Linked DNA regions of Homo sapiens. The protein of the gene in region 2 interacts with the protein of the main gene of each other region in a biochemical or structural test. Each region holds a gene or a part of one and is shown on either strand. Other genes may lie near its edges. The genes, in order: GPC4, PTPRS, OMG and SLITRK1.

Region 1 (7,026 bases), on a different chromosome or scaffold from region 2:
CTGGAATCCTTGGAAGACCACCAAGGACTTTAGCTCATGCAGTGCAATTTCGCACCACTTTCAACAATAACAAAAATGCATGACTGAATGGCTCAAAAATGTGGAGTGTTAGAGGCATTCATTTGAGTCTAGGACACTGTCACAACACAGACAGACCCAAGTAAATACCTTTAGACGGCCAGTATAGAAACAGGCGTAATCTTTACCATCACCCTGGCCTCTCCAGATGCATACATTAGCCTTGTCTTCTCTGAGCTACACTCAGATAATTTTGGTCATTTTTTAAGGGGGATAGTCAATATAGTGACTTGTATTCAGCCTAGGTCTGGATGGATTAATTGCCAGGCACTTTGCCTGGGATGGGGAATGTGCTTTTTTCAGTGCAAAACACCCAGGATCATTTTCCAGGTGAAGTATCACAAAGTCTGGGTACCTAGCTCATTGAGCCCCAGGCTCAGCCCAAGTTTAATGTTTTATTCCAGATGGCCTTGCACTTGCCTTCTAGAGGTTTGAACAGGCTTTAAGAATACTCCATGTTCTGGAGGAGTCTCAGTCTTTATAGATCATAGTTAGGATCATCTGATGTGCTCTCAAGGGTGTCAGGGAGTACATCATGCTGACAGGGCTTCCAACTGAGGTCCTGCATTGCCTGTCTGCTTGACCCCTGTACTTTTCAAATAATGCTGAGTCCAGGTGCCATGATCAAAAGGGATCTTTAACACAAAGATTATGTTTTTGTTCAGCTTTCAATGGCCATGTACTTTTGGAGCGCCCACTATGTGCAGTATCCTCTGCTCAGCATTGTGGAGACAGCAAGAAAGGCAGGAGGGGCTTCTGCCACCAGGACCTTTCCTATTAGTAAGGAGATAAGCCACGCACACACAAAATTAGAATACAACACAGTGGTGATAAGTGCCATACAAGCGATACAGATGACGAGAAGGGAGTGCCCAGGCATTTCAAAGAGAGAAGGGATTTAGGACTCTAATACTATAGAATATTAACTGGGTAAAGCTAGTTCACTAGTAAAAATGAAAATACTAATGAAGATAAGTTTAAAAATCTAACCATTTTCATTATGCCTCCCTCCATAAAGACAAAGGTAAAGGGTATGCAACAATGGGCATTTTATTACTCATCTATGTTGAAATTGTTTTTAAGAGTGAGGCAGTGGGTTAGAAGCATTCATGAACTTGCCAAAGGTCCTCTTCACAATGACATTGAATGATACTCAGAACTTTGTGCCCTAGTTGCAGTTTTGGAGTTTTTATTTCTTGTTCCCTTCTGTGTTCATGAGCAATGCACCTATGATCATGTGCTCACACACACATACATATGTACATGCACAAAGGATTCCAGGACTCCTATAAGCTGTTATGACTACGTGGAAAAAAAGTACGTGTGTATGTGTGTTGGAGAGGTAGCAATACTTTCTAATAGTGAGTTGATTATATATGACACACAGCATGTGTCTTTAAGATTTGTATTCCGCCTTCCCCACCGTAAGTAATGTGTTGGATTTTGCAATGAATCTGTGATCTCCTGTTTTGTTGGAATCATCAATTTGGCTCTGTGTTTCACTTGGGGAGGGTCGAATTGAGCCACAGGGCCTATCACTGTAGAAATTGTCCCAAGTAGTTTACAGGAGGTATCTTCTGGACATGTTCAAAAAAGAATTTAGTTAAAGTTCTGGCTTATGCAGCTCAGTCTCTGGTTAGAACATATAAATATAAAATGTCTGATTCAGCATAATTACTGTTTTCCTTTTTTATTTGATTCACGTTGGGTTGCATGCAATTTCAGGATTAACTGGAGACTAGACTGAGGAATGAAAAAGGAAGTTTTTTGTTATGTGTACAAGGGAAACAACATTGGCGTTAATCTGAGGCAGTTGGAAGTGAGTCTCTCTGGCTCCCCAATGACATTAACTGTTTTAGCACTGAGGTTTTTTTCTTATTTATGTTTTTAAAAATGTATTTTGGCCTCATGATAAGAGTTCGTAGCTATTGAATGCTTTCTCTGGGCCTGGCCCTATACCAAGGAACTTACATGATTGTCTCATTTAAAACCCACAACAACCATATGACATCAGAATTATCATCTCCATTTTATAGACAAGAAAACAAATTCAAAGGGATTATGAAATATGTTCACAATCTTATAGCTAATGAATAACAGAGGTGGGATTTGAACCCAGGTCTTATCTGTTCTAGAGTATAGTTCATGCTATGTTGTACAGATAGTAAGACAAGAAAGTACCTTCTCTATTCCCATAGAGGTTGTTGAGATATAAAGTATGGGAGGACCCTCAGCTAACTAGTAACAGACCATCATCAAAACGGCACAATTTTCGTGTTATAGTGGAGAGGATCCAGTCACATCTTTTGTAGACAAAATGTCAAACCCAGACATAGACAATCTAGTGTTAATGGTAGAAGGAATATAAATTGTATTTCCTGGACAATACAATTGAGCCAATGAGGGTTTCTGAGGGAGGGGAATGTCGTCAGTCAAGCTGTTTTAGGAAGATAACTAGTGGCTCTTTGGGTTAAGGGTTGGCGAGGCAAGAGATAAAGACAGGGAGGTCTGTCAGCAGACTCTTTTTAAATAGTTCTTAACTGGTCTACCTGCCTCTTGTCTGTCCCCCCCTCCTAAATCCCTGTTCTATCCTGAACATCGCCAGCTTAATTTCCTTACATCACTGCTTTGATTAGAGTTATTCCTGTGCTTTGAGCTTCAGTGGCTCCAAGCATCTCAAATGATACTTCTTTCATTGAGTCACTTCTGAACTCTCCAGGGTTATGTGCCCACTTCTTCCTAATTCCCTGTTGGAACCAGTCCATGGTCTTTGTACATAACTGCCTTGTATTATAGTTAACTGTGTGTGCAGGTACGTGTTTGTCTTCTCAACTGGAAGCAACTTGAGGGCAAAGATGACAACTCCTCGTCTTGTCTGTGGGTAGCAGTACCAAGTGTGGTAGGTCAGTGCAATATTTGTTAAACAAGTGGGAGAATAACATAGCCAATTCTATTGTGTTCTCTGTCAGACACTAGTGCTACAATGAGATTATACTGCCTTGATGATAGATTGTCATTCCATGGTCTGTTGATCTCCTAGGAATCTTTTGGATCTAAACACTTTTTTTTTTTTTTTTTTTTTTTTTTTTTTTTTTTAAGGCAGGGTCTCACTGTTGCCCAGACTGGAGTGCAGTGGCGTGATCTTGCCTCATCGCAACCTCTGCCTCCCAGGCTCAAGCAATTCTCCTGCCTCAGCCTCCAGAGTAGCTGGGATTATAGGCATGAGCCACTACCGCCTGGCTAATTTTTTTTTTTTTTTTCCAAGATGAAGTTTCGCTCTGTTGCCCAGGCTGGATTGCAGTCGCGTGATCTCGGCTCACTGCAATCTCCACCTCCTGGGTTCAAAGGATTCTCTTGCCTCAGCCTCCCGAGTAGCTGGGATTATAGGCGTGTGCCACCATACCCGGCTAATTTTTGTATTTTTAGTAGAGACGTGGTTTCACCATGTTGGCCAGGCTGGTCTAGAACTCCTGACCTCAAATGATCCAGCCTCCCAAAGTGCTGGAATTACAGGCATGAACCACCATTCCAGGCCTGTATCTAAACACTTTGAAGTGAAATAAATTTAAAGTAAATATGCATATGTTGGTATAGCTTGGAGAACGTTTTTATTCTTTTGGGGGAGTACTTGTCTTTACCACTTCATTAATAACTGAATGCTTATAGGATTTTTTTTTATTTTTTGAAACAGAGTTTCGCTCTTGTTGCCCAGGCTGGAGTGCAATGGCACGATCTCAGCTCTCCGCAACCTCCGCCTCTGGTTCAAGCCATTCTCCTGCCTCAGCCTCCAGAGTAGCTGGGATTACAGGCATGCACCACCATGCCCGGCTAATTTTGTATTTTTAGTAGAGATGGAGTTTTTCCATGTTAGTCAGGCTGGTCTTGAACTCCTGACCTCAGGTGATCCACCTCGGCCTCCCAAAGTGCTGGGATTACAGGCATGAGCTACTGCACTGGCCAGGAATTTTTCAGAAAGATTCAGAATTGTTTTTCTTAATGCCTTGAGATACACTTCTTTAAAGAATGAACAGTTGAGACTGTTGTGATTAGGCAATTTAGAGCAAATTTACCACATGCAACTGTTCAGTGTGCATCAGTTACCTTTTAACATAAAAAAACTCAAGTTTATTGTCTTTACCAAGAAGAACACAAGCTTTGAAGGGTATCAGAATATTTTATATAAATAAACAGACATACTAAAATACAAACAGGTAAAAACTAGCATTTTCAAATCTACTTGGTTAAACATCTGTTGCTTACTATAGAGAACATGAAAGTGCAGAAAATGCATGAAGCGATTCCATCCTGGAGGTAATTTGAAATATTATGTTTAAGTTCTGATGCATTTAATTCAGCAATCTGGTGGGAGAGAAAAATCAAAGAGCTGCATCAGCCAGGTATTCAACTTTTGAGAAAGAAACTCTAACAAATGTTAGAAATTAGGGGAAAAAACTGAATGGGAGAGTTAAAAAAGTCAATAACCTCCAGGAAGCCTGGAAACTATGTAAAAACATCTTATTGGAAGCCCAGATAAATGTGTGCCAGACATCAAAAAGACCAACTGCTCGGGGGAAGAAAAAAAGAACCCGGCATGACTAACTGGCAGAGTAAAAGAGGCTGCTTCAGGGAAAAAGGCATCTTTCACAAAATACAAAGAGTTTAAGCCAGAAGAGGGAAGTCCACTAGGTTTCACAAGGCCCAGGTACAAACTAGAAATTAAGTGGGCTGACAGAGAATTGAAGTTGAATCTTGCAAGGGATTTGAAAGATGGCATGTGTGATAATAATGGTGAAAAGGGTGGGTTGAGTCCAACCTATCTAGGGAGAAGCAATATGGCTTCTTTAAGGGTAAACCATGCCTGATTGATCTCTCGGGATTCTTTGTGTGGAAAAAAAAGCATGAGGATACAGGGAAGCAGACATACATCATTTAGGTTTTTAAAAATTATGCAATGGGATTCTAAGGCAAAGAATATTCAGAAAATATATTTACTTTGAGATAGGTGGGGATAGTTGGACAGAGAGGGAGAGTGAGGGAGGGAAGAGACTCCACTGTTGTAGATGGAGTAGTTTACATGGAGAAGACATGGCTTGTTAGGATGAGTAGTTCTAGCCTAACTCTGGCAAATTTGTTGTCAAATACCTTTGGTGAGGTTCTTCCCTCTTTGAAAAATGGGGTGAAATTGAACCACCTGGCACCTGAGGAGCTTTTAAAATATACTAATGCCTGGGTACCACCCCATACCAATGAAATAATACTTTTTTCAGGAAGGACTAGGCCATGATGGATGGATGGATGGATGGATGAATGTGTGTGTGTGTGTGTGTATTTTTTTTTTTTGAGATGGAGTCTTGCTCTTGTCACCCAGGCTGGCGTGCAATGGCGTGATCTCAACTTACTACAGCCTCCACTTCCTGGGTTCAAGCGATCCTTCTGCCTCAGCTTCCCGAGTAGCTGGGACTACAGGTGTGTGCTGCCACACCCGGCTGGTTTTTTGTATGTTTAGTAGAGATGGGGATTCACCATGTTGGCCAGGCTGGTCTTGAACTCCTGGCCTCAAGTGATCCACCCACCTTGGCCTCCCAAAGTATTGGTATTACAGGCGTGAGCCACTGTGCCTGGCCCATGGTAGTTTTTTTTAATTTTCTTTTTTTTTTTTTTTTTTTTTTGAGACGAAGTCTTGCTCTGTTGCCAAGGCTGGGTGCAATGGCATGATCTCCACTCACTGCAACCTCCGCCTCCTGGGTTCAAGTGATTCTCCTGCTTCAGCCTCCTGAGTAGCTGGAATTACAGGAGCACACCACCACTCCTGGCTAATTTTTTATATTTTTAGTAGAGACAGGGTTTCACCATGTTGGCCAGGCTGGTCTCGAACTCCTGACCTCGTGATCCGCCCGCCTCGGCCTCCCAAAGTGCTGGGATTACAGGCGTGAGCCAGCATGCCTGGCCTAGGTCCCTTCCATCTCTGAGATTCTATTATTCTAAATTTTCCAATGAGATTCATCACAAAATGTTGTTTGAGATAAAGCCTTTAGTTTAGAATCAGTGCATGGTTGTTTTAATTTTGGCTAACTTGGATTTAAGAGAAAGGTGTGTCAAACATGGAGGAAAATGTTTTCAATCAAGATATAAGTGTGAACCACAACTGAGTGCTGCTTTGCTGCAGGTAGAGACATAAGACAAGCACAATGAGAATACTTTGGAAAGAATTAGAACAGAATCCAGCCTTGCTGTCATTTATTGATTAAGTGTCAACATGCTAGGTGATATTTCTTCCCTTTTTCTTTATTGGTAAAATTAAAATAAATCTCTTTATCCCTTACTTTAATGTCCTCTTTGCCATGTGTTTATTCTCTTCAAGTATCTTATCAAGAAATAGAAGTACAGTAAATCCCTAGGCTTCTAGCTGGTGCAACCATCCAGAACACAGCTGGGAATGTGGAAGTAAGCAGAAAAGCCAAATGATGGAAACAGCTGTCATAAAGCCCATGCATTCTATGTGGAGAAAAGGCCTTCAGAAATTTATTATCAGCAATCATTGAATGGCTCCTGTATCCAGAGCAGTATGCTGGGTGCAGGGGATTCCAAGAGGTGTCAAGCAGGAATCAAGCTTTTGAGGAACTTGCATTCAAATTAGGTAGATAGGGTTTATACGTGAGAAGATAAAATGCTTTGGTTATCCAGTTTCCCAGTCTATGGCAGATTAGAAGTAGCAAATGGTATTGGTTGGGGGCCGATGGGAATCACAGGAAGGGATCGTGTTAGAGGCAGGTAAGACTTGACATCTGGAAGAAGTGAGAGAGGACAGTTGGAGGGTGACCAGAAGCTGAATGGGAGAGCCAGAACTTGCTGATCTTGGCAGTTTGAGATCTCCTAGAATGGGCGAATGCTCAAAGCCACCTTTGTAACCATAATCATCGAGGGCACTAGTATATTTCATTACAGTAT
Region 2 (6,831 bases):
ACACGAGGCAGCCCCTACAGGACCAGGGCTTGGGTTCAAATCTTGGCCTGGCCACTTCATCGGTGTTTTGAGTTTTTTTTTTTTTTTTTTTTTTGAGACAGTCTTACTCTGTCACCCAGGTTGGAGTGCAATGGCATGATCTCAGCTCACTGCAACCTCTAACTCCTGGGTTCAAGCGATTCTCCTGCCTCAGCCTCCTGAGTAACTGGGATTACAGGCGCCCGCCACTGCGCCTGGCTAATTTTTGTATTTTTAGTAGAGTTGAGTTTCACCATGTTGGCCAGGCTGGGTTTCACCATGTTGGCCAGGCTGGTCTCAAACTCCTGACCTTGTGATCCACCCGCCTCAGCGGTGTGTGGTCTTGGACAAGCACCACCACCTCTCTGGGCCAACTCCTCCTCTGACTGTTCACACAAGGAAACGAGATCAGCTCTCCAGGACCCCACCGACCTCCACCCCAGGGATGAAACTGGACAGGCAGGGGCGCAACAAAGACTCCACAATGGGCCGGGGTCAGACGATCTTCCTTTAATACAAAGTCGATATATCTACATACACGGGGGTGGGAAAACCACCCGGCTGCTTCCGCTGGAATAAACAGTGTTGAAAGTAACCGCAGACCTGCCCTTGTACAAAGAGGAACAACTCGCTTGCTCAGGGTAGGCGGGTAGAGGGGGGCCTGTCCTTCTGGTTTTGCTCCCAAACTGCCCCACAGTCCCAGGGGGAAAGGGTCCCTGATGTGGGGCAGCACAGCCATACAGCCACTGTCCCCGAAGAAGTAGGATCCTCTCTGTCTCCTTGGGGGCGGGAGACGGGGAGACAGCTCAGGCTCTCAGAGGAGGACCACTGTCATCTCTCTCCTCTTACAGCAGCGTCCCCCTCAACCGCACCCAACGCCACTGGGTCCGAGCTCCCCCATGACCTTACCCTCAGAACTGTATTTGATATGTCTGAAAATTTAATTTATAAAAATGAAACAAAAAGGGGGAAAAAAAAAGCCAAGAAAGAAAAAAGGACATCCCATTCTTCTGTGAGCAAAGCACACTTTCTGATGGTAGGAAAAATTAAAAAAAAAAAAAAAAAAAAAAAAGCCAAGGTACAGCCATGGGCCTGGCGTGCGCGTTTGCGAACGTAACTATCACACAAGGACGCTTTCTACAGTGAAAAAATAGACTGTCTTTGAACAGAATATGAATAAGCCAAAGTTAGTTCTCTTTGAAAGTCATTGACTGGCGAGTCTTTTGTTTGTTTCTCTTAAAAAAAAAAATGGAAAAAAAAATACACTATTTAAAAAAAATGAAATGTCACGGGATACAGTTACACTGAGAGTTTTAAAAGAAAGCTGGATTCTGGTCCCAGCCCAGTGTCCCCAGGCTGCAGAGCGGGGAGGAGCCCCCCGGGTCCCCCTACCACCGCTGGGGGAGGACGAGGGGTCCGTCTATGGTCTGTGCCCCACCCTCCTCTGGTTCTGGGGAGCACTCCTATTTGCTCACCATCCCCCCACCCCCCACCCCGGAATCTGGTTTTGGAATTGGAAGGAAAGGAGGAATGTGCCAAGTATTTGAAGGCGGCGGCCGGTGCCAGGGAGGTCGCTGGGGCGGCCGGGGCCGGTGGGGGGGCTCGAGGGGCTGCGTCGTCCTCGGAAATGGTGCAGAAACACAGCTGCTGCCGCTGCCACCTCCTGCCCTGCCCACTGGGGGTCCAGGCCTCAGGAGGTCCGCCCGGGAGGGGCAGAGGCATCCGGGGCCAGTGGTGTCGGGCCTGGGGGGAACCATGGCTTTAGGTTGCATAGTGGTCAAAGCTTCCGAGGTACTCCAGTGCCGCCTGGTAACAGAACTGGTACTCATCCTGGGGGAGCAGAGGTGACCTGTTAGTACCTCCGCTGCTCTAACGCCTCCCAGGGCTCCCTATCGCCCTCAGGAGCAGGCCAAGCTCCTCAGCCTTGTGCGTGTCTCTTGCAGAAGGTCTCTTTGGCCCCCACGGCCCTCCCACAATGAAGTGAGCTATGCCACACCTCTCTGCCTAACACAGCCAGGCTCTTCACCCGGAACGCCCTCTCCTCCCGTCTGCCTGGAGGCCCTATTCATCTTTTCTTTTTTATTTATTTTGAGACGGAGTCTCGCTGTGTTGCCCAGGCTGGAGTGCAGTGGCGCCATCTTGGCTCCCTGCAACCTCTGTCTCCTGGGTTCAAGTGATTCTCCTGCCTGAGCCTCCCAAGTAGCTGGGATGACAGGCGTGTACCACCATGCCCAGCTGATTTTTGTATTTTTAGTAGAGACAGGGTTTCGCCATGTTGGCCAGGCTGGTCTCAAACTCCTGACCTCGGGTGATCTGCCTGCCTTGGCCTCCCAAAGTGCTGGGATTACAGGCATAAGCCACCACACCCAGCCTCATTTCTATTTTTTTTGTAGAGATGGGGTCTTTCTGTGTTGCCCAGGATGGGCTCAAGCGATCCTCCCACCTCAGCCTCCCAAAGTGCTGGGATTACAGGTGTGAGCTGCCACGCCGGGTCCCCTCTACTCATCTTTTAAGACATGGCTGCTGTTCAGAACCCCCTCCACTGGAACATTCCCCTTGAAGCTAGGAGTCTGGGCCTCAGTTTCCCCATCTGTACATTGGTTGGACTTGGGGGTCAGTGGTTCTTGGCAGGGTCCAGGCTGAGCCACAGACTTGCTGTGACTTGGGGACTGCAATGAGCCCATCTCTGTCCACTCCAAGGGCCACTTCTCGCCTTTGACCTTCAGCTGACTGTTGTGTTAAAAGGGTTACTGGTCCCCTTCCAGTGCGGGAGGGGTCTGTGGACCGTCTACCCACAGTGACCCAGAGAGTCCCAGGTGGCTGTACCCATCTCACAGAGGAGGAAACTGGAGCTTAGGGGCAGTCGGGGCGTGAGGCCAGGCTGCCTCCCCTCCCTGTCCCATCTTTACCTCTGTCTGCACCATGGCCGGCCGCTGGGTTCGTAGCATCTTCACCGTCTGAAAGATGTCCACCACGCCTTCATACCGCATCCGCTCCAGCACGATGCTAAGCGTGATGAAGACGCCCGTCCTGCCCACGCCGGCACTGGTGGCAGTAAAGTGAGCACAGCCATTCAGGGGCAGGTGCTGGGGAGCCCTGATCTGACCACCCGATTCCCCGAGGACTCTAACAGCCCAGATGGGACAGCCTAAGCTTGGGGCTGTCCCCACCAGGCCTCAGTTTCCCCAGCAGGGCCAAAAGCTGGGACACTCGAGGGAGCTCACCTGCAGTGGACAGAGATGGGGCCGTCCTGGCCAAACTGCTCCTTAGTCTTATGCACTTGGCCAATGAAGTCGATGAAGCCCTCCCCCGACTTTGGCACACCCTGTTCCGGCCAGTCTGTGAACTGGAACTGCCGGACAGTCCGGGACTGGCCATCCTAGAGTGCAGAGAGCCCAATCTTGTTATCAGGTCAGCAGCGGCCATGGGGGTTTTTCTCCATCCTCCCTATCTTCACCCCCATTTTTTGTTTGTTTGTTTGTTTTTGAGATGGAGTTTCACTCTTGTCGCCCAGGTTGGAGTGCAATGGCGTGATCTCGGCTCACTGCAACCTCCACCTCCAGTGATTCAAGTAATTCTCCTGCCTCAGCCTCCCGATTAGCTGGGATTACAGGCATGAGCCACCAGGCCCGGCCCTCACCCCCATTTTGTACACTCTCTGCCATTCATTTACCCTGACAACTTACCGTCCTTCACAATCCAATGGTACTGCTTTCCATAAGAGATGCTCCAACCTCATCCTCACCACTTCTTGCCACCCAGCTGTTCCTCTCCCCACATTTCCTGTATGACATCCAGCACCTCCATCCTCCATCCTTTGCCATCCCATAGTGCAACCAGCTCTGCCCTTCCCAGCTCCTATTCACCATGATCCTCTGTCATCTTCCACTCTGTGCCATTTCGGGGCCCTACAGCACAACTCAACTCCATCACTGTCCATAGCTCATCAATGATGACTCATCTTCTACAACCCAATGGTGCCATCATCTTTCATCGTCCACCATCCAACACCATCATCTTCCACCATCCAATAACAGTGCCACTGCTACCACCCACTGCTGGTAACTCACTACCTTCTGCCGTCCCGAGTTCCACCCAACACCATCATCTTCCATCATCCACCACCATCCCCTCTTGGTAACTCATCCTTAACCATTCAGTGATGGCATCTTCCACTGACTGTCTTCATTCCCCACTACTCAACCATTCCTCTTTGCAGTCTCCTTTCCTACCACCCAGTGGTGCCATCCAACCACATCATTCTCTGCCATCTTCCATCCTTCACAACTCAATGGTGCCATTTTCCACCATCCATCACTAACAATTCATCACTCTCCACCATCCAAGGGTACCATCTTCCACTGACATTCTCCATTCCCCATCATCTGCCTTGTTCTAATCCCATCCTCCACCATCAAAATGGTGCCATCCAAAATTGTTATCCTCTGCCACCATTTGCCATCCAATGTACCATCTTTCCCTGATGTTTTACATTTTCTAAAATCTCCTTTCCCAACCCCATCTTCCTCAATCTTGTACCACCCATTGGTTTATACCATTGACTATTGTTTACTGTCCTTTCTTAGTCCTAGTATTTCCCATTGATTTTCTCCACCCCCTGCTGGCCAAACATTTGCCCTTCTCCAATTCTGTCTTCCTCCATCCATCACTGATAAAGCATCACCCTTCACTGACCCAAACTACCACATTCCACTGACATTCTCCATCCTGTTATGCGAATGTTCTTCTCTCCAATTCCAGATTCCACCCCTCCAAGGGCACCATCTTGCACTGCTCACAGCACAATGCCCGGTGATTGCTGTTCATTCAGCAGCCTTCACCATCCTTTGGCATCATCTTGGCCAACATTCCCCATCCTCTATCATCCCCTCACTGCGTTCTCTACCATCGTCGATCTTCCACCACTAACTTTGATCCTTTGTCACCCAACAGGGCCACCTTCCACTATGAGTCTTCATCTGTTGCCACCTAATACCTGGCCTTTCTCCCTCCACCTGACACTGCAGTCCTTCATTGAGCCAACACCATCCATACTCATCTCTCCTCACCCAACGGTGCCAGTCCCCACCATCTGACTCTCCTTGTCCACCGTCTACCACCCCTCACCCTCAATCCCTCAAGTCCCTTTCAGCCCTTTAACATCATCCTCCACAGGTGGCTGCTTCCAGAGGAAAGCCCCATTCACTTCCTTGAATATCATCCCCTGGGGCCATGTTCCCTAGTGAGTGGAGACACTGCAGGGTCAGCACAGAGATAAGACCCTCTCTTCCACCTATGTGGCAGTAGAAGCAAGTGGCCAACTGGTCAGCTGACACTTCTCCTGATTCCCAATGCTTATGCCTAACCCTTGGCCTTTGTATCCATCACCAACCAGGGCAGCCCTTTCCAGATCACTAAGGCTCCAGCCCCTCCCGCCAGTCTGTCTCTTCACTCACCCGGGCATCTGTGACCTTGAACTCTCGCAGGATATACTGAGGCATGTTGTATTCTGCCATCGGATCTACCACAAAGTACTGGTAGCGGGCAGAGCGCTCGGCCGGCCAGTACTGGTGACACTTCTCCTGTGGAGGAGATGGCGGCCGTGGTCAGCGCTGTCTGAGCCACAGTCTGGCCCTCGCCCTTCCCTGCTGTGGCCCCTAGCTCACCCGGCCCATCTCCCGCAGCTTGGTCAGCATCACCACGATCGTCGAATTGTTCTCCCACAGCATGCGCCAGAAGTCTTCCGTGGTCTCCGCCAGCGGCCCCTGTGTCGCGATGTAGGCCTTCTGCTGCCTGCAGGCGTTGGGGGTATGAGCCCAGGGCCGGCAGGGAGACCCGGCGTGGTACTCACCTGATGCTGCCCGGGAGGGTCAGGACCAAGCCAGTGACAGCTACACCTACCACCCCACTGCCTGCCAGGAATGGCTGCTGGGTGCACCACTTCCCCTCCTGGTGATCCCATTTTGCATGTGGGGAAACCACCAGTCTCATGACAAATTCAAATCCCTTGACAAAGCTGCGGGACTATCCACTAACCTCTCCTGATTTCTTCCCTCCATCTCCTTCAAGGGCCACTGCCCTACTTTCAGTTGCTTGCGTGGGCCAAGCTCTCAGCCCCGGGCCTTTGCACATGTGGCACCCTCTGCCAGGAACACCCTCCCCTCCTTTGCCAGGATTTCTCAATCTCAGTGCTATTGACATTTGGCGCTGGATTGTTCTCTGAGACAAGCTGTTCTGTGTACTGTAGGATGCTGAGCAGCATGCCTGGTCCCCACCCAGGCAGTACCAGTAGTACTCATGAAAATAAGAAATATCCTCAGGGTGTCAGAATTACCCCAATTGAGAACCACTGATAGAACAGATGGAATCACATTATGGACAGCAGCCATCAGTTAAACACACACCCAAAGATTCACGGACAGCAGCCATCAGTTAAATATACATCTAAAGATGTGTATTTAAACAGCTCAGGGCTACCAGTATCTCCCCAGCTCTGTCTCCCACAAGACTGGAGGCCTCTTGAGAGTAGAGATGGGCTCCTTCTGGGGCCCTGAGGTGGGAAAGGCATGGCACCTACCTGTAGCCATCAATGAAGCTGGCGTTGATGTAGTCAGAGCCCTCCACACCCCGGATGGGTTGCAGACAGACCCGTGTGCTCTCATAGGGCATGATGTTCACCAGGCGGTTCTTGAACTTGTTACAAGGCAGATTGGCACTGATGAAGCGTGACGTGTGGGCCTTGGAGTTAGCCAGCCGCTGTGGGGAGGAGGAAGCCAGAGGCCACCATCAGGATGAGGAAGGCTATGCTTTCAG
Region 3 (7,819 bases), on a different chromosome or scaffold from region 2:
GCCAAACAGTGGCAATCCTTGCTTAATCAGCAGGAAGAGATACAAACTAATAAATGCAGGACAGAAGAAAATGCTGGAACAAAGAAAAATCTTTTAGAGAAAAGATTAAAGAACTAAGATCCAGAAGAGAAAGTTTATTTCATGAATACTGCAAAAGAATAAGGCACAGGGGAATAAAAGGTAGATTAAAGTTCACACCACATACTAGTGGTGCTCTTAACCAAAATAGCATTAACCAGAGTCAGACACAACCCTGAAGACCATTTGGTTCAACTCCTTTTGTTTGTTAACTACTGAGAAAACAGGACCAGAGAAAGTAAGTGATGTGCTTAGAAGTGGTATTAAAAGCTGAGTTTGCTCCCTGACTATTGGTTCAACACTCTTTTCACTAATATAGGACCAAAGAGCACCTACATCATGCACTGAAACATACATATATCACATAAGTCTTCTATTTGGTGTCAGTGGTGAGGGACACAAATGAATTAGATGAGGGTGATCTTTAACTGTTGTTCTTACTGAATTCTGATCAAAAAGTAAAGTAGCACCTTTGGGAACCTATAACTAAAACACTGTGGTACCGGTATATGACTAAACAAACAGATCAATGGAACAGAAGAAAAAGTCCAGAAATAAATATCAAATCAGTGGAAACAAGCATTGGAACAATTGGATAGACATCTGGAAAAAAGAAAAAATTTGATCCATACTTCACACTATATTGGAACACCAAGGACCAGAGTTCTAAATATAAACCATGAAATTATACAAGTAATAGAAGAAAATATGAGTAAATTCCTTTATAATCTGGAAGCGGGAAAAAACCTTCCTAGCTGAGACTCAAAATCCAGAGGCAATAAAAAGGGAAATCAAATTATATGAAACTTTTAAATATCACACACATGCAAGTGCGCATTACACACAGACACACACACCTCACCATAATAAAGCCAAAAGACAAATGGCAAACTGGAAAAAAAAATTAAAACTTAAATCAAGACAAAGTGCTAATACCTCTAAAATTTAAAATGCTCCTAATATGGGGCAGGAAGGGGAAGACCCAAAACACAACTTTTAATAGTGCAAAACATTAAAAAGACAGTTACAGGAGAAAACATTTAAATGGTCTTTAAACATATGTAAAGACATATACTCCCCCTCATAATTACAGAGATGCATTTAAAATTAGATGGAGATACTTGCCTATCAGATGGACAATAAATCCCAAAGTTCAACAACAAAGTATACAGTGAGGCTGTATAGAACTCGACACCATGATACACTGTTGGTGGGACTGCAAAATGGTATAATCAATGGAGAGGAATTTAGTAATGTCTGGAAAAATTCCAAATGCATTTACCCTTTTACCCAGCAATCCTACTTCTAGGAATCTTTTTCAAAGATTTACTGGCAAACATATAAAATTATTTAGGTACAAGGGTATTCACTGTGGCATTATTCGTAACAGCAAAAGTCTGAAAAACCCAGATGTCCACCAATAGGGGACTGGTTGAATAAGCCATGGTACATTCCCAAATGGAGTACTATGGATCAAACAGTGAATCATACAGATACCTATATACTGATATGGAGTGATACTCAAGATACAGTAAGAAAAGAAGAACAAGTTATCTAACAGTATGTATATATGTCACCTTTTATATTAGAAGGGGGGATAAGAACATACCATACATATGCTTACATTTTTTTTAGGTTTTCAAAAAGAAATGTTAATGATACAACGAAAAACTAATAAAAACAGTTACTAATAGCAGAAGGAAGGAAATAGGATGGAAAAGACAGAGAAGCAAGATTTATCTGAATATACATTGTTATATATATAATTTTGACTTGTGATCCTGAAAAGCTGAAAACTGAAACAAAGTTTATATCAAGTTGGTGATATAAAAATACACAGAAAAGAATTATTTCACATTGCATTAGAACACAGAATTTACTATACACTTTTAGTAAAATAAAGCAAGCAGAGCTACAAACAAATTTTAAACTTTATTCGGTAGTCTATAATCTAATTGTAGCAATCAATACTGGTATTATTTTGAAATTATTGTGAGATGATGCAAATGAGCAATTATGTCAATGATATGAGGAATCACTTATAGAAAATATGGGGGACAGAAGAACAAATTAAATCTTCCCAAAGAGTCAAAGAGAAAACTCCAAGATGAGAGACATTTTAGGAAATAATTGACTGAGTTTTGGCAACAAGCCAGTGGCATAAAGAAAAAAAGGAGTAGGGAGGTGGGCAAAGAAACTGATTCATTTGGATTTTGACTTGGTAATTTCTATGTTGTTATTTCTTTCATGCTTTTAAAGTACTTTATTGAGTACTCTCAGTTGTATTCAGCAGGAAAATCAGTCTAAATAGCCAACCATATTACCAAAAATAAACAATATCTGACTCTCAAGCATAGCAAATGTTACCTATAATAATGGAAAACTGAAACCACTGATTAGCGTGGGATAGCTATTCCTTGGCAGATGCTTTGTGATACCTTTCACAATGTTGGGGTAATATATCCTAGGACACAAAAGAATACGTAAATTAATTTACTGCTTAATCTAGAATGTAAAAGTTGCCTAACTATCATTACTGACCTAGACAGCCTAATAGAAAATGTAATGAGTCTGAATAATATTTAAAATAAGTTGTAACACATACTTATGCCTCTAAAAAATATTTTTTTTGAGTAACAGTAATACAGTATTATTTTATTTCATGAGAATTTCTTTTATTTATTTATTTATTTTTATTATACTTTAAGTTTTAGGGTACATGTGCACAACGTGCAGGTTAGTTACATATGTATACATGTGCCATGCTGGTGTGCTGCACCCAGTGTAAGAGATTGTTAGAATTCAAATATATTGAAATGATCTCCCTTTTTCTTTTTGAGAATTTTACAATAATCTTTGAATAATATGAAGCAATTTGGTATGTCCCAAACTTGAAATGAGAAACATTGCCACTACTATTGCACTGGAATTTTCTATTATATACAACAGAAACTAAACTTGATACAGCCTAAACCCAAATTCATTTGAATCCATTAATGAAGTAACATGTCTTTTCTTTCAAACAAAAGTACTGTTAAGTGTAATGAAAATGCATAACTCTACTTCTACACTGACTTAATGAGGTTTCCTAAAATTAAGAGATTTAAGTGGTCGGTAAATTGACCCTCAGTCACATCTTTAGAAGTGCAGCAGTGTATATATGAGCTTAAATAGAACTCTAAATGTCAATGCATTCCCTATTTCCACAATATTGCTGAATGTAGTATTTTTAACACATTATTTTAAGCACTATGATTGATGGCTGGTTTCCTAAATCCACAGTAAGAATCCAATTGAGAGTTCAACTGAACCCTCAAAGTAAAGTGGCAATAAAGCACCCAATCAACAATAAACTTCTATGTTGCGGACTCTTAAAATGCAGATACTTTTCGAGGAACATTAGTTTTATACAAAAGGTGGCTCCTAGAGTATAGTTTCTCTTGTAAGAAAATAAACTTCAAATTTTAATACAACAAATTCTATTTGTGGTATAATCTAAATAATGCTAATATAATTTAGAGAAAAACAAACGATTTAGTAACAAGGCATAAAGAGACTTTCCTTACACATAACATGCTAAATATTACTCGTTTTTAAATGGTGCCACTTGGTAACGAAAATACCGTAACTTTATTTGCTTTCTTTAAACTTGCCATTCTGGAAATCAGATTTGTGTTTTAACAGATTTACACAAGCAGTCCACTGAAGAGTGGAGCAAAATTTATCATAAATCTGATCTCACTTTATAAAACTCATGATGAAAAATTTTCCTTTTATATCATTTCATGTAATTTTAAAACTATAAACTACTTTCCCAGAAAGATGAAATGTGCAACACTCTGAAATCACCTAAATTGATACTGCTATTCTTAAAACATAAAATCAAATAAATGGTCATTCATACAGCACCAAAAATGTCTTTGGAAAAAACAATACTCATATCCACTTACCACCCAAGGTTGCATAAAGAAAAAAAACTTTAACTCCAAATATATAAAATAAAACATGTTTATTTTACATAGGAACTGATAATCTGAAGTATAAGATGCTAATTTCCAAATGTATCCTGGCTTGTGTGTAGCCTTGGTCAAATGATCATTGTATCAGAAAGATAAAGAAAAAATAATCGTATTTCAGTACTTCTATACATCCTAAAAGGGAAGACGGAACACTTAAGTGGTTGATAAATTTGAAAAGCTGATTAAACATAATAATCACCATGTTGGGGGAAGACATAAAAGTCATAAAACAGATTTTTTATAATATTAAAAAAGTGACATGAAAATTATACAATTTTAGAAAGGAATATAAAAAGGCAGGAGTTAAAAAATAGTGGGACTAATATCATAGAAAACTATCCATGAGGAAGGTCAAATTTATTTTCAACATGTAAAAAGGATAAAGAGTAGAGGTATTTTAAAAATTCACAGATTCTTAATGAGGCAAATGTTAAAATATGGAACCCAATCTCAGACAAATACATAGAAAGGAGTAAGGGCCAACTCTCATGCATAAGGTATCCCATCCTATAGCAAATCAGATATATAGGTACGCTTGATGCCACAAATTTTTTAAAAAATTGTCCATTTTGTTGCGTGTGCACCTCTTGCCATAAATTTGAGTCAGCACCAGCGACAGCTCTGCAGTCCTCCTATGTGGTACTGATCAGGTGGTTGCAGAGCTTCAGCTCACAGCAACACAATGCAGCTGAGCAGGCAAGCACAGCCCACAGCCAGAAACAGTTCCGACTCTACAGAACAAGACGACCTTTAAGTTTCCCAGAGAAAATGAGATGCTGATGTTGAAGACGACACCACGGTAAGATGTTATTTAAATCAGTAAAAGGCTGACTTTGGAATCTTTTTCCTTTTTCTTTTAAGAAAAAGTCAACGTTAGGATTAAATATATATTCAATAGCAAGTGCATGCACCAGAAATTTGCTGCAGTGTCAGTTGAGGGATATTTTTTATACATTCAGTCACTCTGTAAATATACATATTGTTTTCCTTTAAAATGGGCACTGAAATATACAGAAAAAAATCACTTTATAAAATGTGAGGTTTATAGGTACTGTGTTGGTCTGGATTTTTCAAGTGCTTTTTACAAAGATATATTTATCCTAAAAACATACAGATAAAATTTCGAAGAACTGCTTTAATATCTAAATAAAATCTACCCTATATACACACATTGAATTACATTACTGCAGAGATTAAAAAAAAAAGACACGACAGCCATTTTTTCTCATCTGAGTAAGAAAGCATATCATCAAAAATAGTAATAGCCTACAACTGCAACTATTTATTTGCAAAGAATGCTATTTTATCATATTAAGGCTCTAGAAAGATAAATAAGAAAGAATATGGTTAGAAAAGGGGGGAGGGAGAGAGAAAATAAAGGAGAAAATGCAGGAGAGAGTAGGGAGAGAGTCTCTCTCTACCACATAGCCCAATTGAAGGATTAAGCATTTGGACTATAAATGAAGGGGAGCTTTGTTAGTTTAATCACTGGAACAATTATAAAAGGACTCGACAACAACGAGGTTTATTGAAAATTTTGCCTAATGCTAACTGACCCATGCAGATGCCTAAACTGTATTTGCATATTAAAAGAAGGGTGTATCTGTTTGTTTCTAGGCTTTGATGGAATATCAGATATTGAAAATGTCTCTCTGCCTGTTCATCCTTCTGTTTCTCACACCTGGTATTTTATGCATTTGTCCTCTCCAATGTATATGCACAGAGAGGCACAGGCATGTGGACTGTTCAGGCAGAAACTTGTCTACATTACCATCTGGACTGCAAGAGAATATTATACATTTAAACCTGTCTTATAACCACTTTACTGATCTGCATAACCAGTTAACCCAATATACCAATCTGAGGACCCTGGACATTTCAAACAACAGGCTTGAAAGCCTGCCTGCTCACTTACCTCGGTCTCTGTGGAACATGTCTGCTGCTAACAACAACATTAAACTTCTTGACAAATCTGATACTGCTTATCAGTGGAATCTTAAATATCTGGATGTTTCTAAGAACATGCTGGAAAAGGTTGTCCTCATTAAAAATACACTAAGAAGTCTCGAGGTTCTCAACCTCAGTAGTAACAAACTTTGGACAGTTCCAACCAACATGCCCTCCAAACTACATATCGTGGACCTGTCTAATAATTCTTTGACACAAATTCTTCCAGGTACATTAATAAACCTGACAAATCTCACACATCTTTACCTGCACAACAATAAGTTCACATTCATTCCAGACCAATCTTTTGACCAACTCTTTCAGTTGCAAGAGATAACCCTTTACAATAACAGGTGGTCATGTGACCACAAACAAAACATTACTTACTTACTGAAGTGGATGATGGAAACAAAAGCCCATGTGATAGGGACTCCATGTTCTACCCAAATATCATCTTTAAAGGAACATAACATGTATCCCACACCTTCTGGATTTACCTCAAGCTTATTCACTGTAAGTGGGATGCAGACAGTGGACACCATTAACTCTCTGAGTGTGGTAACTCAACCCAAAGTGACCAAAATACCCAAACAATATCGAACAAAGGAAACAACGTTTGGTGCCACTCTAAGCAAAGACACCACCTTTACTAGCACTGATAAGGCTTTTGTGCCCTATCCAGAAGATACATCCACAGAGACTATCAATTCACATGAAGCAGCAGCTGCAACTCTAACTATTCATCTCCAAGATGGAATGGTCACAAACACAAGCCTCACTAGCTCAACAAAATCATCCCCAACACCCATGACCCTAAGTATCACTAGTGGCATGCCAAATAATTTCTCTGAAATGCCTCAACAAAGCACAACCCTTAACTTATGGAGGGAAGAGACAACCACAAATGTAAAGACTCCATTACCTTCTGTGGCAAATGCTTGGAAAGTAAATGCTTCATTTCTCTTATTGCTCAATGTTGTGGTCATGCTGGCTGTCTGAGGGTCTGCATTTTCTGAAACTAATGAAAGCACTCCTCCCTGATGTACAGTTGGGAAAATATGTCCATATCTAACCAGTGATTCGAGCTATATTTAAGTATTCAAGAAAGCCAGTCTTAACATTTCTAACTCTGATGTAAATGAAGTAACTTGTCTTAAATAAAAGAAATGCACAATGTCTTGGTACTTGCTGCTATTTTACTGTCTTAATTAAGTAAACTAATGAGTTTCTTTTATAAAAAAAATGAAATGTTTTAAGGCTTCAATTTATTGCACAAAATATAAAGCATCTAAACTTTAATATGTATTTTATGTATGTTTACACTGTCAAACATCTGGAAAATAAAAGGTCTATGCTCATAACTGTGTCATTTGGCTTTCCAGTCATACCAACTTTAGCAGAATCAAAATGACCTCACCATTTTTGTTCTAGGGTACCTTGGTAAAATCTTTAAGGTAAATAAAATGGCGGTAGTATCCAAGGATATTTTACTGAAGTAAAATCGTAGCTGCCATCCCATGAATGGTTATGCTACAACATTATTTTACAGACAAGCCATAATTGTTTTAAATCTAAATGATGTCCTGCTTCTGAGGAACTCTTGGCTACTTGACAGATTATATAATGGACAAAAGCTCTTCAAAAAGCTAGAAGACACTAGGCTTTGCATTTTAATAAGAAAAGTTTAACGGTTGTGTTTTTTGCATGTAAGAAAAGTGTTAAAAACATAATGAAAAAATTTAAAAACATGTAAAGAAGCAGTTTTAGTGCAGATT
Region 4 (7,091 bases), on a different chromosome or scaffold from region 2:
CTGTGGGCCCCATCTGCGTTGTAAGGCCCATTGTGCCAGTAGGAAGAGTCACAGACTGTCTGTAGGGAATTAATCTCGGACGCGGAGGAGTTGGCATCTCGTCTCTTGGACCGCTTTCGGTTCCTCAGGATAAACACGAGCATGCCCACCACGGTGAAGGCGGAGGTGACAAACACCAGCAGCAGTCCCGGGACCAACACCGAGATGGACACCCTGCTGGTGTCTAGGTAGGAGTTGGAGTGCGTCCCGGTCTCCGCCAACCCAGTGCTGTTTTTACTGTGCGAAGTTAACGTGGGCGAGATCCTAGCGTACAGCTGAGGGCAGATCTCGTCATTGGAGAGGAGCATGAAATCCTTTCTAAAGAAGTTCACCGGCGTCTCACACTTGAGGTCGCTCATCAGCACTTCGGAACCCAAGCGTTCTGCCCACTGCTTGAAAGGCACAATTGTGCAGGAGCACTCCCAGGGGTTTCCGTGGAGGTCTATCTGGATGATGGAGGTTAACTGGTCCAGCACCCCTGCCACCGGGAGGTACATGAAGTAATTGTTGTGCAGGCTGAGTTTAGAGAGCGAGACCCCAGCGAACACGTCCACAGGCAGGGACCTCAGCAGGTTGTTGTTGAGAATGAGGATCCTCAGTTTGGGCATGGCATTGAAAGTGCCCGGGAGGATGAGCTGGATAGCGTTGTACTCCACGTTCAGGTACTCTAGGTTTTGCAGCCCCGCGAATTTCTCCCGGGACAGCGTGTCCAGGTAATTGCTATCCATGTATAGCCACCTGAGGTCCAAAAGGTTCTTGAAAGTGTTGTTCTCTACAGTAGCGATGTTATTGTTGCCCAGATCCAACAGAATGAGGTTCTTGTAATCCACAAAGTGCGATTTTCGGATGCTGTGGATCTTGTTATCTCGTAGGAAAAGCTCCTGCACGTTAGAGAGCTTGGGCTTCAAATCAGCCAAGCTGCTCACGTTCCTGTTGTTGCAGTTCATCTTTAAACCCGACCCTGGGATGTGGTCGCAGCTGCAGCCCCCAGGGCAGGGTAAACTGTTAGCTAAGGGTTTGTTCCTGGAGCTACCCGTCGCTATCGCTGCTGTGGGTCTGATTTTGATCTGCCAGTTGCCTGGGATCTTTGTACCTCCGTTTGGAGCAGACCCTGGTGTGGCATGATCCTCTTGCCCATTTGTCTTGAAAGGAGTTGGCAGGGGTCCAGGAGCAAAGGTCTCTTCTTGGGCAGGGGGCGCCGGGAGACTAGAATCCACTCGGTTTTTCAAAGGACACAAGTCCTGTTCGGTGGTTTCATTGAGGTCTTTACCCTGCAGTCTGGTGGGGGCTTCGCAGACCACTCGGCCGATCAGGGCATTCTTGGGAATGTTTTCCAGCCATTCTTTCAGGGAGAGCAGATCACAGGTGCAGTCCCAAGGGTTATCCTCTAGCAGGATCTCCGCAATACCAGGGATTTGCTCCAAGACCTCCTCATAGGGCAGCGTTTTCAGCCTGTTACCCCGGAGGTCGAGGTGGGTGATGGGCACATACTGGAACACGTTGGCAGGTAGGGTGCTGATGAGATTGTCATTTAAAATGAGCACCTCCAGCTTGTTCAAGTCCTGGAAGGCCCCCGGGTCTATATCTCGTAATAAATTAAAATCAGCCTGGAGATATTCCAGATCGTCCAGCCCCAGAAAAGTCTGCTTTCGAAAAGACTTGATCTTGTTGTTGTTGATGTGCAGCCTTTTCACCAGCTGCAGCCCCAGAAAAGCCCCCGGAACGATTTCATGCAAGCCATTGTTTTCCATGTGCAAACTAACCGCATTATAAAAGTTAGCGAACTCATTAGGGAAAAGTCGAGTGAGGGAATTGCCATGCAGAAATAAATGGTAAAACTGGGAAGTCGGGGCAGTGAAACGCTGCAGACTTGTGAAGCCCTTTTTTTCACAGTCTACGTGTAGGTCCCCTTCTATCTCATTGCAGGAACAGATCTTCTCTTTGCAAACGTCCCCTGTAACGTTTCCAGCGGCAAAACAAAGAGACGTCTCCAGCAACAGAATCCAAAGCAGCATTTTTAAAGCGAGCAATTCATCCCCGATCTCATCACAAAGTAACAGCGACCATCCTGCTCGCCACAGACACAATTCAAGTTCATTTAGTGCTCCAATGTCCGAAGCCAGGAAAGGAGAAGAAAAGGGTTTGGGGGGGTGGGGGTGGATTCCTTCCTCCCTAACCCCCCCGCACTGCAATAGCCCAGACGCCAGTCAATAATTATATCCACAAACTATCCAGGCACGTAGTGCAAGGCAAGCAAAGAAAAAAAAAAAAAAAAAAAAGTAGGAAAAAAACCCCACTCCCCCACAACACTTTAAAAATAACAGAAAAAGAAGTTAAATATATACATATAAATTAAAAGTACACCCTTACAGAATCTCATCTACTGATCTTCACTGATCAGAAATGAAACAATGCTAGTAATTAGAAGCAAGTGCATGTTAGAGAAACAAGCAGAGGGTTTGCAGCGTAGTACAGGCGCACTGCCTGTGCATGGCTGTGCGTCGGACTGACCTTGCCTCTCTGATACAAAGCAGGGTTTTCCGCGGCTTCTGTTGTTGAGGCTGCTGGTGGAGTTCTTGCTGTGGTTGCGGGTTGCCCAGAAGTCCCCCCGAGGTGCTGTCCAGTTCCCCCGGTGCTGAAATCACGCCCGACCGAAGGACTCACGCTGCCCAGCCAATGGCGCTGGAAAATTTCCGCAATCGCTGCGTTTTGTGGTTGTCCATCCTTTTCCTTTCCTCCCCTTCGGTCCTCTTAAGGCTTTTTTTTTTCTTTTCTGTGCTCTCGCTCTCGCTTACTAGCTCTTCTTTTCCTGTTCTCCTTCTCTTTCTTCTGCTCTTTCGGAATTACGTGGAGGGGGGCGGAGGGCGGGGGGCGAGTTGTCTGAGGGAGGAAGAGAGCGCGAGAATGAGGGGAGGGGGGCGGAGAAGAGAGTTGCTAAGAAGCTCTGCTCGTTCCAGCCTGGTGCACTCTGAAAGATCTGACACCCTCTGCTGATCTGCAGTAGCAAAAATCCATCTGGCTAGGGAATGCTGAAAGAAAAAAAAATCAATCCACGTACAGGGCAAGCGTTAAAAATGTGGGCATAAAAGGCTGACGATCTACATAGATGCTTATTTTAAATGGATTATTTGATTATTTTTGCGTGCTGGAAACTTTACCCTTTCCTTTCCTTAACGAGTTCACAGCCCCCACCAGCTCCACCATTCGGAAAGGAGTGCTTTTAAAACATTTATTTCCCAATGGCTTGAATAAAATTAGTGTCAGGGTGTCAAGCGAACAGCAATTTGAGGTAATTATACTGCACGCCATTTTCATCGGTTCTTTAAATGCATTTCTTCCTTCTCTGCGGCACAGTGTTTTACGCTATTTGATGTCTTTGAAACATTTCTTTTGGTATGTTCAAAGTGGCTTTCGGAACATATATGTTACATAATATCATAATTGAGTATGAATTTTTTTGCAAGGTATATAAATTAGGCATATACTTTTTAAAACTTGCAGAAATTTAGTCAATTTGGTCATTGAGAGTTAGGTTCTTTGATATTTCTTGAATGTTATTTAACTCTGGAGGGTGAAACACAATGCATGCTGAAGTCCTTGATTCCAGTCCCGAAAGCTTTAACTGAGAACCGGAAAAGAAGGGAGAGGGGGCAGGGAAAAATCCCAAGATGATTTGTGAGTGCTGTTAAAAACCCACTGGCAGGCAGGCGCGCGCACACTACACGCACGCACACACACACACACACCCCACTGACAAAGTTTTCACATCAGTTTGAACTAATTTAAATGTTTACAAGTAAATAACCAGTTGCATTTTGAGAGGAGGAGATAGAAATCTCTGGACTCTAAAGCTCAGCGAGAACGCTCTCTGCAGGTAGCCGGCAGCTCCTCTTCGCGCAGATGCTTGTTGGGTCACTGATGCTGGGGAAACACGAAGCTCAGGCTTTTTCCAGTTAAGGAAACAACAGATTCCAAACTCTGAGCTTATAAAAATCCAGTAATATCACCTTCTGGGATGGAAGAAAACGTGAACATGCTGCTTCCGTGAAGCCTCTTTTGCTGACTTTTCCTTTCAGAGTCGACACCTTTTCACATCAATACGTCCTAAAATATTTATAGATCATTTTAGGATTTGAAATTTTTAGGTCTTTTAAATAGAGTTACTGTTTGGCCCTTTCTTCACTCTATGCAGAGAGGATATGTTTACACCACTTGCCTTTTTAATTAGGTCTTTTGCAAGTTGGACAGCTGCAACGAGCTTGCTAATATTTTGTGCAAAAGAGCAAATGTTCAAGGAAGTGTGTATTTTGAGAAAGATGGGGAGTAAAAATTTGGGGGAAAGGACTGGGGTTGGGAAAATTCCCAAGGCTAGGGAAGGTCTTAAAGATGTTTACAAGATTTTTTTTTCTGGGTCAGAATCTAATTTCTAGGTGGGTGGAGAAAATTTCATATCTATATACAATGTTTTCATATGACAAAATATTTTTGTTGTATTCCTCTGGTGAAATTCAGTGAAGGGAGGTGGGGATGAAGACATTTCAGTGTGTGTGTGTATGTGCATGCATGTGTGTGTTTGTGTGTGTGCACGTGTGTACACTAGAGAGATCTTTTTTAGACATCCTGATACACTTCTGAAATAACTCTGTTCTCATTTAATTTGACCCATTACCACATGTAGAGAGTGAAAAAAAAAGACCTTAATCAATTTGAAACCATTATGCTAAAGAAATGCTATGCAGTTGAGAACTGCAGATGTGGAGGAGTTCAACTGAAGGAAATCATTTTTCTGTTTCTTCTTAAATAGGACTCAGGTCTAAAATATCTTGGCCCAAGAAACCACTCTGAGAAAGGAAATCAGCCTTATGGTGTCTGTGATTAATAGGGTTAGGCAAGACTCAAGGAAAACAGAAAAATGCTGGCTGTTTAGAAAGGACAATCATCTAAAACCCACATTTTTAACCTTAAAAGGTTACATTTTTTTTCAACTTACAGAATATTATCTTTATGTGAAGAGACTCCAAGAACATATTTAAGTTGATTTAAATGAATTTAGATAACCTACAGTTTGTATTCAGATTTCATTCTCCTCTTCACCCTTTAAATTCTGTATCTTTCTCTCATCCCTTATTTCTTCTTTCCTCTTAACACACCAATCACAATAGAAAATTTACAGTTAGGATTCTCCTATTTAGGTATCTTACAAAATTTTTTAAATTATATCCTCTTCAAATAATTTCTTATCTCTGCACTCTAAGAAAAAAGTGTGGTAGTTCTCAGATGAGCAACTAAACCTGAGAAGAAAAGATTAAGATTATACCGCCTATATGAAGATCTCCAATACAAACTTGCAAGCAAAATATAGAGGTACACATGTAAGTCTATTGAAATGGACCCTCTATAATAGCTATCATAATATTTTCATAATAAATATATTTTAGAGACATAAAACGGTCTAGAAAACCACACCTACAACTTCAAAGCCTAACTATTCAAGTTAAACAATAAATTTATTGGTGGAGAATAAAAATATAAGGGATTTATATGTGATCTAAACATTTCTAATACCTTAGGGGAATATTTCTTAGGCATGAATTTTTCTTAAAAGGGTTCCACGCTGTCTATTTGAGCTCAAGTGAACTCCTTCAGTTGCCTTGCCTCTCAACAGATAATCTCAGTAGCTGGAGATAAAGGATATTCCAGATGATGATGATGATTGATAATATTTGCTCAGGGCTATAGTTTAATTTCCTGGCTGTGACCAGAAAGATTTCAATTGTGTCATTAAATGTTCACACATTTCTATTCTTCATCAAACAAGTTCTCCTCTCAAACAAGAAAAGGTGTATGTTGATTGTTCAATAAAGAATTTTTCAGACTAAGAAGAAATTTGCCAGTTAATTATCCATTTTTTCCCAAATGGCATCAAGTTTCTAGATATTTCCATATGTGCACTACATTTTTAAAATGAAAAAGTAGAATTTATAACTAACTTTTTTTATCCAGTTTATTTAATCTTCACAATAACTTTAAAAATTACTGTTCTAATTTTTAACTGTAAAAGTAATACTTTGATTTAACAAATACAAAATTACATATAGGAAGTCTATCTTTACTCTTCCCTCATCCACAATACTTTTTATTGCAGAGAACTAAAGATAACTGGTTGGTTAATAGTGAATTTGATCCTATTTTATGGATGTGGAAACTGAGGCTAAGTAACATTGACTAATTTACCAAGATTAAAAAATATCATTTGACTTTGTTATGGTAACAAAGCTACAGACTCCTGAACTAAGCTTTTATTCTACTAAGTCTCTCTTTGTTCTTAATATACAATGCCATTTATGACCCTGGTTAAGCTTTCTGTGGATCAGTTTCCTTACTAGTATATTTAACACATACTAGTATATATTATAGTTTATGATTTTTTTGGTCCCTTCACGTTGCTTTTTTCTGAATCCAAAACACTTTAAAAATGATTTTACAACAGACCTAGTGTCTCTTGCCTTCCTTAGACTTTTCACATTTGAACTCAGGATAATTGTTACCACATTTAATATTTACTATGATTTGAAACCAGTAATAAACAGTATAACCACTGTAGGAGAGAATTCATTAGTCCTAAGTTTAATCTACTACTGTCATAAGATAAAGGGGTCATTGTGATTTTTTTCATCTTGAGATAATAATTGTAAACTACAAGACAGGGTTATAAATGAATTGTACCTATAAACAAATATGCTTAGAATGTAAGATTCTCACACATATTTTCATATCTTATTTTTGTAGATTGTAATATTCTAGGAATTGGGTGCTACGATAATGAAGATATTACACAATTTCTGAAGGTGAAGTTAATACAATATTTTTATAGTATTTCTTTTATAGTATATTGCTTTTTAAAACTTAGCAACTTTTATTTCTCATCAAAGAAATAGCAATCTCAGTAAAACACATCAAAATGAATGTACAGTTTTACTTTGTGGCTTAAAGTATCACTGTCCTATGTTTATATCATTTTATATTTTTTATTACTTTGGGCCATAGGTTTG

What was found.
Region 1: the proteins of PTPRS (region 2) and GPC4 form a complex in vitro, tested with the Homo sapiens proteins (one study listed by BioGRID).
Region 3: the proteins of PTPRS (region 2) and OMG form a complex in vitro, tested with the Homo sapiens proteins (one study listed by BioGRID).
Region 4: the proteins of PTPRS (region 2) and SLITRK1 form a complex in vitro, tested with the Homo sapiens proteins (one study listed by BioGRID).

Annotation. Positions count from the first base shown.
Region 1 is NC_000023.11:133,405,469-133,412,494, reverse strand, and holds part of GPC4 (glypican-4 precursor), read left to right. Parts: intron 1-7,026. UniProt on the Homo sapiens protein: Cell surface proteoglycan that bears heparan sulfate. May be involved in the development of kidney tubules and of the central nervous system.
Region 2 is NC_000019.10:5,204,995-5,211,825, forward strand, and holds the end of PTPRS (receptor-type tyrosine-protein phosphatase S isoform 1 precursor), read right to left. Parts: intron 6,775-6,831; coding exon 6,596-6,774; intron 5,812-6,595; coding exon 5,685-5,811; intron 5,601-5,684; coding exon 5,475-5,600; intron 3,398-5,474; coding exon 3,243-3,397; intron 3,064-3,242; coding exon 2,928-3,063; intron 1,849-2,927; coding exon 1,780-1,848; 3' UTR 514-1,779; downstream 1-513. UniProt on the Homo sapiens protein: Cell surface receptor that binds to glycosaminoglycans, including chondroitin sulfate proteoglycans and heparan sulfate proteoglycan.
Region 3 is NC_000017.11:31,294,233-31,302,051, reverse strand, and holds OMG (oligodendrocyte-myelin glycoprotein precursor), read left to right. Parts: upstream 1-4,812; 5' UTR 4,813-4,896; intron 4,897-5,714; 5' UTR 5,715-5,720; coding exon 5,721-7,043; 3' UTR 7,044-7,405; downstream 7,406-7,819. UniProt on the Homo sapiens protein: Cell adhesion molecule contributing to the interactive process required for myelination in the central nervous system.
Region 4 is NC_000013.11:83,879,454-83,886,544, forward strand, and holds the start of SLITRK1 (SLIT and NTRK-like protein 1 precursor), read right to left. Parts: upstream 3,022-7,091; 5' UTR 2,551-3,021; exon of another isoform or gene 2,108-2,550; 5' UTR 2,055-2,107; coding exon 1-2,054. UniProt on the Homo sapiens protein: It is involved in synaptogenesis and promotes excitatory synapse differentiation. Enhances neuronal dendrite outgrowth.